Homo sapiens: one gene and its partners. The protein of the gene in region 2 purifies or fractionates together with the protein of the main gene of each other region. This does not show direct contact. Each region holds a gene or a part of one and is shown on either strand. Other genes may lie near its edges.

Region 1 (3,275 bases), on a different chromosome or scaffold from region 2:
TGCGGGTGTCAGTGAGGCCGAAACTCCCACGGATAGAATCTGGGGCCACATGGCGTGCTCGGAACACTCTGGTGGGTCCCATGAGCGTCCTCCAGAGCTGGATGGCATCCTTGTGGGCAAGGATGTAGGCTCGGATTGGCCCGCTGTGAACAAAACAAGCACATGTAAAGAACCTGGCCATCTAGACTAGGAGGGTGTGCTGTGAGCAGGGCCTGAATAAAAACACACTCTACGTTCTGAGAGTTTTCCTGCCTTTCCAGCTGAGTACCAATGCTGCTTCAAATAGGTGATGCAGGGCCCCTGCTGGTGTACATCAAGCCTGCAGAGATCAGCAGGGTGGCTATGCAGCATTCAAGGGGACTCTTCTAACCACCAGAGGACAGGTGCCTAACAGGTCAGCATCGGCTCAGTGACAGCCCCAAACCCGTGTTTCTTCAGATTTGACATTGTTTACAACTTTATTTTTTGAGATGGAGTCTCACTCTGTTGCCCAGGCTAGAGTACAATGGTTCAATCTCGGCTCACTGCAACCTCTGCTTCCTGAATTCAAGTGATTCTCCTGCCTCAGCTTCCCGAGTAGTTGGGATTACAGGCACCCGCCACCATGCCTGGCTAATTTTTTGCTGTTGTTGTTGTTTTTGAGACGAAGTTTCACTCTTGTTGCCCAGGCTAGAGTGCAGTGCCACGATCTTGGCTCACTTCAACCTCCACCTCCCAGGTTCAAGCGATTCTCCTGCCTCAGCCTCCCGAGTAGCTGGGATTACAGGCACCTGCCACCATGCCGGGCTAATTTTTTGTATTTTTAGTAGAGACGGTGTTTCACCACATTGGCCAGGCTGGTCTCAAACTCCTGACCTCAAGTGATCCACCCGCCTCAGCCTCCCAAAGTGCTGGGATTACAGGCATGAGCCACCGTGCCTGGCCTGATTACAACTTTAAAGAATGGCAGTGAAATGAACAAATCCATTTAGGGGCAGGGGAGATTAGCCTCAGTGGATAAAGATGCTGGAACCAAATTTGAAGTACCTGGCCATGAACTCCACCAGCCTCTGATAGAAAAAACGCCCTGCAAAGAGAGAGGACCTTCATCAAGATACCTTCATCCTGGTGCCCAAGGCAACTTTCTGTACTTCTACCTCCTTACCTAGAATAATAAAAATTGTTTCAGAGAAAAGAACAAGGACCTTGGAGTCTGACAAACCTGGGTCTGAATCCAGGGTCTGCCACTTACAACCTGCGTAGTTTTGGGTAAATCATTAACCTCCTAAACTTGGCTTCCTAATCTGCGTACGAGGGATATAACAACACCTACTTTTTAGGGTTGTTGGGAAAATTGAATGAAAAAATGAGCATTAGGACAATGTCTGATGGTAAACATTCATTCACTATATGTTAACTACTGATATTATCAAGACATAAAACTAAGTTTCTGGTTGGGACTACAAGGTAGAACCCTCCTTGGGAAAAGATGGATAATCATGAAAAGTGTGTGTTTTAAACCAAGATTTTAGAAAACTGGCTGCAACTGTACACGGTTGGTAGGTCAGAGAGCCTGCCATTGTGTTCCAGGTAAAATCTCTCTTATGGCCTCTTGGGATTGAGGCACCTTCCATTCAGAGGACTACTGATCCTACCTTCATGCTCTCGGTAAAACCTCTGGCAATCTTCCTTTCTCCACAGTAGTTCTCTCATTCGTACAATCAGGAACTTGTTGCTTAGAATCTGCTGATGAACAGCCTGAATAAAGACCATCCCCAAAATAAAAATCAATCAGGAGACTGAAACTGACCAAAAGAAACCATGAGGACCACTTGTTGCTCAGGACCTGAGGGTTTGTCCCATTGAAGGGTGAGAAGACGAGGTGGGGTGAGGTGAAGACCTTCAGTCACACAGCCAGAGTGTGCACCTTGGGTGAAAGGGGATAGGATGCGCTGTCTCTGCTCTTCCATACCTATAACCCCTTGAGCTCAAGACCACAGGACCCACCACTCAGACCACCATAAAAGTCTTGTTAGTGGTCCTGCCTTGGGTTTCTCTCACTCCCTCCAAACCATCACACTTGATAGATGAGAAACTCTATAATTGACACGTCACACTCTGGTCAGAAGGTGTTAAGTAGTTCCTGTTATTCAAGGAATGAAGTACAACCACTTTAGCCCAGTGCTCAAGGTTATACTTTCCTTACTCTGTACCAATTCTCTAGTCTCACCATCGCAGGCTGCCTGCGGCCCTCAGACCCATCACATGCATTCCTGCCTCAGCGTCTCCCTTCTGTGCAACACCTGTCCTTCTCCTGGCACTAACCAAAGTTTACCATTCCTTTGAGGCCCAGCTGAGTCCTGCCACTTCCAGGCCCCCACTCCTGACTGCTTAGATCTTCCTCTGCACCATAGTGGGCTTACTTAGCAGTGCTACTCAGTTAGTATTTATCAAACTATGGTACACAGAATGTGAAAATGACCCCGAGCCCCACCAAGATTTCCCACCCTAATCTCCAGGACTGTGAATATGATGCAATATGATTATGTTACATTACATAACAACAGGGATTTTGAGGGAAATTAAGGTTACTAATCAGTTGATTCTGCTGTAATCAAAAGGGAGATTATCCAGGTGGGCCTAATTAATCACATGAGCCCTGTGGGATTAGAATTGTGAAGGCTTCTCAATGCCAGGCATTTTCTCTGGCTAGAGGCTGAAGAAGTCAGAGAGATTCAAAGCATGAGAAGGATTCAATGCACTGCAGCTGTCTTGAAGACAGACTGGGCCATGTGATGAGGGATGTGAGTGGTATCTAGAAACTGAAAGGAGTTCCTGCCTGAAGGCCAACAGGGAAATGGCAGCCTCAGTCCTACCATCATAAGAAATCAACTCTGCCAACAACCTGAATGAGTCTGGAAGTGAATTCTTCCCCCAGACCCTCCAGATAAGGACCTGGTCAGCCAATACCTTGACTTTGGCCTTGTGAGACCTTAAGCAAACAACTCAGCCAAGCCTACTGGACCTCTAAACTACTGAACTGTGAAATAACAAATAAGTGTTGTTTTAAGCTCTCAAGTCTGGAGTAATGTGTTATGTAGCAATAGAAACTAACAAATACACATTGTCTTGATATTCGGTTCTATTATTGCTTTGGGTCCTTTCTTACATTTTAGGTCTGCCTCAAGTCTCCAATGGATTCTTAGTCTCCTTAGGTCAGAGTTCATGGCTTCTAGCTTTGCCTCCACAGCATCCAGCACAAGTCTGTGTTGTCAGTCACCATAAATGGCCCAATG
Region 2 (3,500 bases):
GTAGCTGTGTAAAATTCTGTCTTATGTCATCTTCAGCTGTACTTAACATGGAACATTTATTACTCATTTTCTCATTAAGCCCTCTCAATTCATTTGAAGGGTGGGGGATGGGCTCTGAAATAAACAGGAGCTTTTTTTCAGTTTCCTGGGTCTCTTTATACAGGAAATTCTGCTCCTTCACTGTTGTATCATCTTCCTGGCAATCTTTCTGAGAAATATGTTGCAATTCCACTTTTTCCTTTTGTTCAGTCTTTTTCAGGACACTTGCAGAAACAGGAGAAAGGGATCCAACACTGTATTTTATTCTTTGTAGGAAAAATAGAAGAAAAATATTAAAATAATTGCTATCAAAACAAATTCCTGAGTAGTTAGAAATTAAATTAGTAAAAACATTATATAATCTTTAAGAAACCTATTTAACTTAGGAAATTTTACAAAAATACAAACATCTTAACATTTTGCCAAATTTACTTGAGCTGTTTTTAAAGTAATACAACTTTTCAGATATAGCTGAAAACCCTAGTGTACCTCTCTTCTCCTCTACATTCCCTGCCTCCCTCCCAGATAACCAATATCCTGAATTTTGACATTTAAAATTACTTTAATCATGTAAATGAAAGAAATTGATAGTAAAGGGATTTGAGCCTGCCCCTAATTTTGCTTTCATTATTCTGAACAATTTCTTAACTTCTGTGCTTTGATTTACATTAATGCACATTTTACTCTTCATTTTACTTAGCAATGTGGAGAATAAGTATTTACTGAGAAACCTATGGCAAAAACATATATTTTAAATTTACATTTAAGAATATTTAATATCAAAGTGAGCTAGAAACTTAGTATCTTTATACTTTCAAAGGTGACAAAGTTGTAACTTTTAAGCTTCAAACATATTTGACCTAAAATTATTTTCTTCATGGAGCATCTTGATATCCCTGAAATTCCAGTTTGTATTAGACAAACCTAAATAATATACAATTAGAGAAAAAGTTAATAGCTCACCAATTACATTTTGTGTTCCGCATGTCACAGATTAACTGTGAGAAATAATACAATTTTTCCTGCCCCTTCAACCAGAATGTTCTTTTTTATCTTGTTCATACATTTACTTACAAACAATTCTCTTTGAACAAATGGGCAATAAAAAAATGTAAAAAAAAAAAAAAAAACTACTCTAACATGGCTTTTAAGTCCAAGATGTTTAGGACACTTGCCCACAGAAGTGACAATTAAGGAACAACCAGTACTAGCTCAGAATTTTGCTGCAGACTGAGTTTTTAGGGAATTATAAGTTCTTAGAGTAGCCCACATAGTTTTTTTGTTTTTTGTTTTTTTTTGAGACAGAGTCTCTCTGTCAACCAGGCTGGAGTGCAGTGGCCTGATCTCAGCTCACTGCAACCTCTGCTTCTCGGGTTCAAGTGATTCTTGCGCCTCAGCCTCCTAAGTAGTTGGGACTACAGGCATGTGCCACCACCTAATTTTTTTTTTTTTTCAGTGGAGATGGGCTTTCACCACGTTGGCTAGGCTGGTCTGGAACTCCTGGCCTCAAGTGATCTGCCCGCCTCGGCCTTTCGAAGTGCTGGGACCACAGGTGTGAGACACCCTGCCTGGGCACAGTAGCCCACATAGTTTTAATAGTTGGAAATATGCCTTCTCTTCAAATCCATATTAAGTCAGTCATGAAACCATTCTGAATGTCACAGAAATATGGAATTTAAGAACTGTTTTACCTGAAGTAAAAAAACTTTCTGGTTAATTTTCAGAAGCTGTATCTTGTTATCACATTTCTAATCTTCTTTATGTCTTAAGTAAGATTAGTCTAAGAATAAAGACTAACTTAATGAGTTATCACCACCTCTAGGGTATATCCATATGAAACCATCCCTTTAAGTTTATAGGAATAATCTAATCAGGACAATTTTTGTCAATGTGCAGTTGGTGTACATTGAGCAGTACTGTATTCACACTTAAAAGTCCTGTCAGTACCTTTAGTAAACATACCCATCATAAGGTTTAGGCAAAGATATTTAGTGAAATATAAAGACCTAAGGGGCAAGTGGAGGAAGTTTTCTTAAAACTCCTTAATATTACCTAAAAGTTCAATAAAATGTTTTAGTCTGAGTAAATGGTAAACTTTATGGTTCTACAACAGGAGCTGATACACTATATAGCCTGTGGGCAAAATCTAGCCGTCAGTCTATTTTTCCAAATAAAATTGCGTCAAAATACAGTCATATCCATTGTACAAAAAAGCTAAGCTAATTAGTTGCAACAGAGATCTTACGGCTCACAAAACCTAAAATATCAACTATCTGGCTCTTTACAGGAAAAGTCAGCCAACTCCTTCTAAACTACAGTGTCAAGAATGAGACTAATTAGTGGGGTGTAGTGGCACACGCCTGTAATCCCAACTACTCAGGAGGCTGAGGCATGAGAATCTTTTGTACCTGGGAGGCAGAGGTTGCAGTGAGCCAAGATTATGCAACTGCACTCCGGCCTGGGTGATAGGGCGAGACTGTCTCAAAATAAAACAAAAAATTTAAAAAAGGAAAAGTTTTACATAAAAAGAAAATTTAAAAAGAATGGAACTAAAAGTAGTCTAAGGTAAGGATCTTTGATAGTAGGGAAGAAGCTACTGGTTTTTAACCATATTTACATCCCGAAAATACATATTCCTTCTAAGAACAGGAAAACTGTGTTTATTTTTAGTTTAATAGTTTAATATTCTAGTATAATTTATTTATTTATTTTTGAGACGGAGTCTCACTGTCACCCAGGCTGGAGTGCAGTGGTGCAATCTTGGCTCACTGCAACCTCTGCCTCCTGGGTTTCAAGTGATTCTTCTGCCTCAGCCTCCCGAGTAGCTGGGATTACAGGTGTGCAACCACCACACCCGGCTAATTTTTTATTTTTTTAGTAGAGATGGGGTTTTGCCATGTTGGCTAGGCTGGTCTCGAACTCCTGACCTCAAGTGATCCAACTGCCTCAGCCTCCCAAAGTGCTGGGATTACAGGCATGAGCCACCACCCCTGGCCGCCTAGTAGAATTTAAAACTTAGGTTGATAAAACTAATTACCTTTTCTTTTTAGGTGTGTCCTTTTCATATTCCACAAAGTCAAAAACTAACTTAGATACAATATCATCAACAACTTGATACTGGTTACTCTGTGCAAAGTTTCTGTGTTGCTCACTTAGAAGGTGCTAAAACAAAATTAAAAACATGTATCAAAAAATTGTATTTAAAATCAAGAGATGCCTTTTTAATTAAGGTTTTCTAACATTCTCATGCCCCTAAAATTAGGTTTCCAATAACTACTCCAAAGATAATACCCTTTACTAGACTTCAAAAGACGTTTAAAATAAAATAAAATAAAAGTCACTTTTGAGAAGCCAGTAAAACTACTTTGGTTTTTAGTCTTCAGTGAGAAAAGACAAGTACTAATTTGTAGTTACAATGGAACTGAAAAGAATGAGCTGTGTCAGAAAACGAAGACACAGAT
Region 3 (3,500 bases), on a different chromosome or scaffold from region 2:
TTTTTACCCAAAAAGTTCCTGTTGAGCAATTTCAGAAACTCTTCACAGAGTTCCAACAATGTACTAGAACTATGAAATCTGCATTTTAGATTACACTAATTTATATTGGATAGTCTACACAAATACTTTATAGTTTCTAGGACAGAAGTTATATAATAAAATTATACCTGCAGTTCTTCTTATAACTACTTACATTTCCTTCAAATGTCTTATTTCTTGAATTGTTTGAAAAGCAAGTTCTTGTAGCTTTTCTGGGGCAAAGCTATTATTTATGGCTTTTTGAAACACCTCATGGAGAACCGTACCAATTAGCATTTGGCGTGTGGCTGGATCAGAGCTCTACAAAAGCAAATCACACAGTTTATTTCACAACATATTAACAGACACAATTGTATATTTATTACCTAATCTATTAAACCACCATAGCCAAAATGCACTGGTAAGACAAATGCCAAAATATTAAAAAAATTTTTTTCTGGTGCGTGGAATTATAAGTGACTTTCACTTTCTTCTATCCAGAATTGTCTGAATTACTGTATGAGTTATCCTTTTTTTTTTCTTTTTTGAGACAGAGTCTTGCTCTGTCACCCAGGCTGGAGCACAGTGGCACAATCTCAGCTCACTGCAACCTTCATCTCCCAGGTTCAAATGATTCTCATGCCTCAACCTCCCAAGTAGCTGGAATTACAGGTGTGTGCTATCATGCCCGGCTAACTTTTATTTTTTGTATTTTTAGTAGAGGCAGGGTTTCACCATGTTGGCCAGGCTGATATGAATTACTTTTAAAATCAATGTTCTCCATTTTGAAAAAAATTAAAATAACCAATATTTTAAAATTCAAAATATTCTCAAATAATTAATATTTAAAGTATTGTTCTCTTATTTCACTTGATAATCCACCCAATAGAAAAGTCAATAAAGGCATAGCTGATAAACTCATGTAAGTAAAAGATACCATTCAAACATAAAATGTAAACCTACTTAGCAGTAATGTTTGGGAAGAAAAAAAATTTTTTTAACCTACAGCAGAGATTTTTGGCAAGGAATTTTTCTCCACTCAAAAAGAAACACTACATTTCTTGATTAACTCTTGTATTAGCCTAGACCTTTTTTTTTTTTTTTTGAGACAGAGTTTCGCTCTGTCACCCAGGCTGGAGTGCAGCCGCGCGACTTTTGCTCACTGCAAGCTCCGCCTCCCAGGTTCACGCCATTCTCCTGCCTCAGCCTCCCGAGTAGCTGGGACTACAGGCGCCCGCCACCACACCCGGCTAATTTTTTTGTATTTTTAATAGAGATGGGGTTTGACCATGTCAGCCAGGATGGTCTTGATCTCCTGACCTCGTGATCCGCCAGCCTTGGCCTCCCAAAGTGCTGGGATTACAGGCGTGAGCCACTGCGCCCGGTCCAAAAAGTTTTTTAAAACTTAATATTCAGGCCAAGCACAGTAGCTCATGCCTATAGTCCCAGCTACTAGGGAGGCTGAGGTGGCCTGGGAGGTCAAGGCTTCAGTGACACACTGCACTCCAGCCTGGGTGACACAGTGAGACTCAAAATAAAATAAAAGTACGTTTCAAGAAAAATATATAAAAAGCTGGGTGTTGGGTACGATCATCTCTTTGTATGTTTGAAATAGCCCAAAATACATTTTTGTTTGTTTTGAGACGGAGTCTCCCTCTATCTCCCACCGTGAAGTGCAGTGGTGGGATCTCAGCTCACTGCAACCTCCGCCTCCAGGGTTCAAGCAATTCTGCCTCAGCCTCTCGAGTAGCTAGGATTACAGGCGCGCACCACAACGCCCGGCTAATTTTTGTGTATTTAGTAGAGACTGGTTTTCATCATGTTGGTCAGGCTGGTCTTGAACTCCTGACTTCATGAACTGCTCACCTCGGCCTCTCAAAGTGCTGGGATTACAGGCGTAAGCCACTGCGCCCAGCCCCAAAATACGTTTTTTTTTTGAGACTTTTTATTTTAAAATAAAACTGCATGTTTCAAGAAAAATAAATAAAAAGCTGGGTGTTGAGTACATGGGAGTTTATTACAATCATCTCTTTGTATGTTTGAAATAGTCCAAAATACATTTTTGTTTGTTTGTTTTGACACAGAGTCTTGCTCTGCCGCCCAGGCTAGACTGCAGTAGCATGATCTCGGCTCACTGCAACCTCCATCTCCCGGGTTTAAACGATTCTCCTGCCTCAGCCTCCTGAGTAGCTGGGACTACAGGTGCACGCCACCACACCTGGCTAATTTTTCTAGCAAAATACATTTTTTAAAAGCAGTTTGCACATTTATTTTTAGTTTAGTGGGAATCACATGAAGCCAACTTTGGAAATGTCTAGGTGTGTTTAAATTTAAAAGTTTATCATTTAAATTAATTTTCTTATTATAATTAGTTATTTTATTAAGCCCTGAACAAGATTCGAAGGACTCAGGCACCTGGCCTTTAGTCCTAGCACTGCCACCTCATAGTTATGTGGCTATGGGGCAAGTCACTTCACCTCTCTGAGCCCATTTTCCTCATCTATAAAATGCAGCTAATTAATACCATTTATTTTATAGGGTTGCTGGGAGGATTAAGTGAAATAATAAATGTAAAAGTGCTCTGTAAAACTCTCAGACCCTGCAGAAACATTAACTGTTACTATTATTTACCCTAAAAGTTTCACTCAGGACAGCTCTTCTCATACATCGAATACTACTGGCTATGCTGGTGCCAGAAATCAGCATGTCTGGATACAGAATCAAATATCCAAAATCTTTATCTATTATCCAAGTGTCAGATGTGCAGTCTCCCTCCAAATGAATGATATCTCCTGGCTCTACTGGAACAGAACACCTGAAAATAAAGCAAAGTTAAAGTATAAATACATAGCTTAGGTTCCTACATGTAAACGTATTAGGGAGGCTTCAAAAAAATAAATGAGTATTTTATCTGAAGAAGAAAAAAATATTTCTAAATTTCTGGGTCTTTAAAAAAAAAAATCAAATAGCAGGATACAGTCTTCTAAAACAACCCCTAGTTATTCTACCCCTTTCTATGTGTCAAACACATCTGAGAATACTCAAGGGTCTTCTATAAATCCCAAAGGGAAAACAACTTAGTGCCAGTAAAGTCTATTGCAAAAGCTATCAAAAAACCTTTGCTAATGTAATATATAGCTCCAATTATGAATTGGGTTGTTTTAATAATTTACTCTTTCTTAAGACTTTTAGGAAATCTACAGCTTGTATAAGTCTTGAAGCATGAAGCCAAATCCAGTGTAGCAAGAATAAAATCAAACTGAACTAGTTGAAACTAGGCCAGGCGCGGTGGCTCATGCCTATAATCCCAGCACTTTGGGAGGCCGAGGCAGGTGGATTCCTGAAGTCAGGAGTTCAAGACCAGCCTGGGCAACATGGTGAAACCCCGTCTCTACTAAAAATACAAAAATTAGCCGGGCGTGGTGGCGGACGCCTGTAATCCCAGCTACTTGTGAGGCTGAGGCAGGAGAATCGCTTGAACC

What was found.
Region 1: the proteins of DBF4 (region 2) and NME6 purify together in Homo sapiens (affinity purification with mass spectrometry; one large-scale study listed by BioGRID and IntAct). This does not show direct contact.
Region 3: the proteins of DBF4 (region 2) and DNA2 purify together in Homo sapiens (affinity purification with mass spectrometry; one large-scale study listed by BioGRID and IntAct). This does not show direct contact.

What each region holds. Positions count from the first base shown.
Region 1 is NC_000003.12:48,295,093-48,298,367, forward strand, and holds part of NME6 (nucleoside diphosphate kinase 6), read right to left. Parts: intron 1,738-3,275; coding exon 1,635-1,737; intron 1,067-1,634; coding exon 1,027-1,066; intron 144-1,026; coding exon 1-143. UniProt on the Homo sapiens protein: Major role in the synthesis of nucleoside triphosphates other than ATP. The ATP gamma phosphate is transferred to the NDP beta phosphate via a ping-pong mechanism, using a phosphorylated active-site intermediate. Inhibitor of p53-induced apoptosis.
Region 2 is NC_000007.14:87,903,993-87,907,492, reverse strand, and holds part of DBF4 (protein DBF4 homolog A), read right to left. Parts: intron 3,202-3,500; coding exon 3,077-3,201; intron 306-3,076; coding exon 1-305. UniProt on the Homo sapiens protein: Regulatory subunit for CDC7 which activates its kinase activity thereby playing a central role in DNA replication and cell proliferation. Required for progression of S phase.
Region 3 is NC_000010.11:68,465,474-68,468,973, forward strand, and holds part of DNA2 (DNA replication ATP-dependent helicase/nuclease DNA2), read right to left. Parts: intron 2,834-3,500; coding exon 2,650-2,833; intron 340-2,649; coding exon 194-339; intron 1-193. UniProt on the Homo sapiens protein: Key enzyme involved in DNA replication and DNA repair in nucleus and mitochondrion.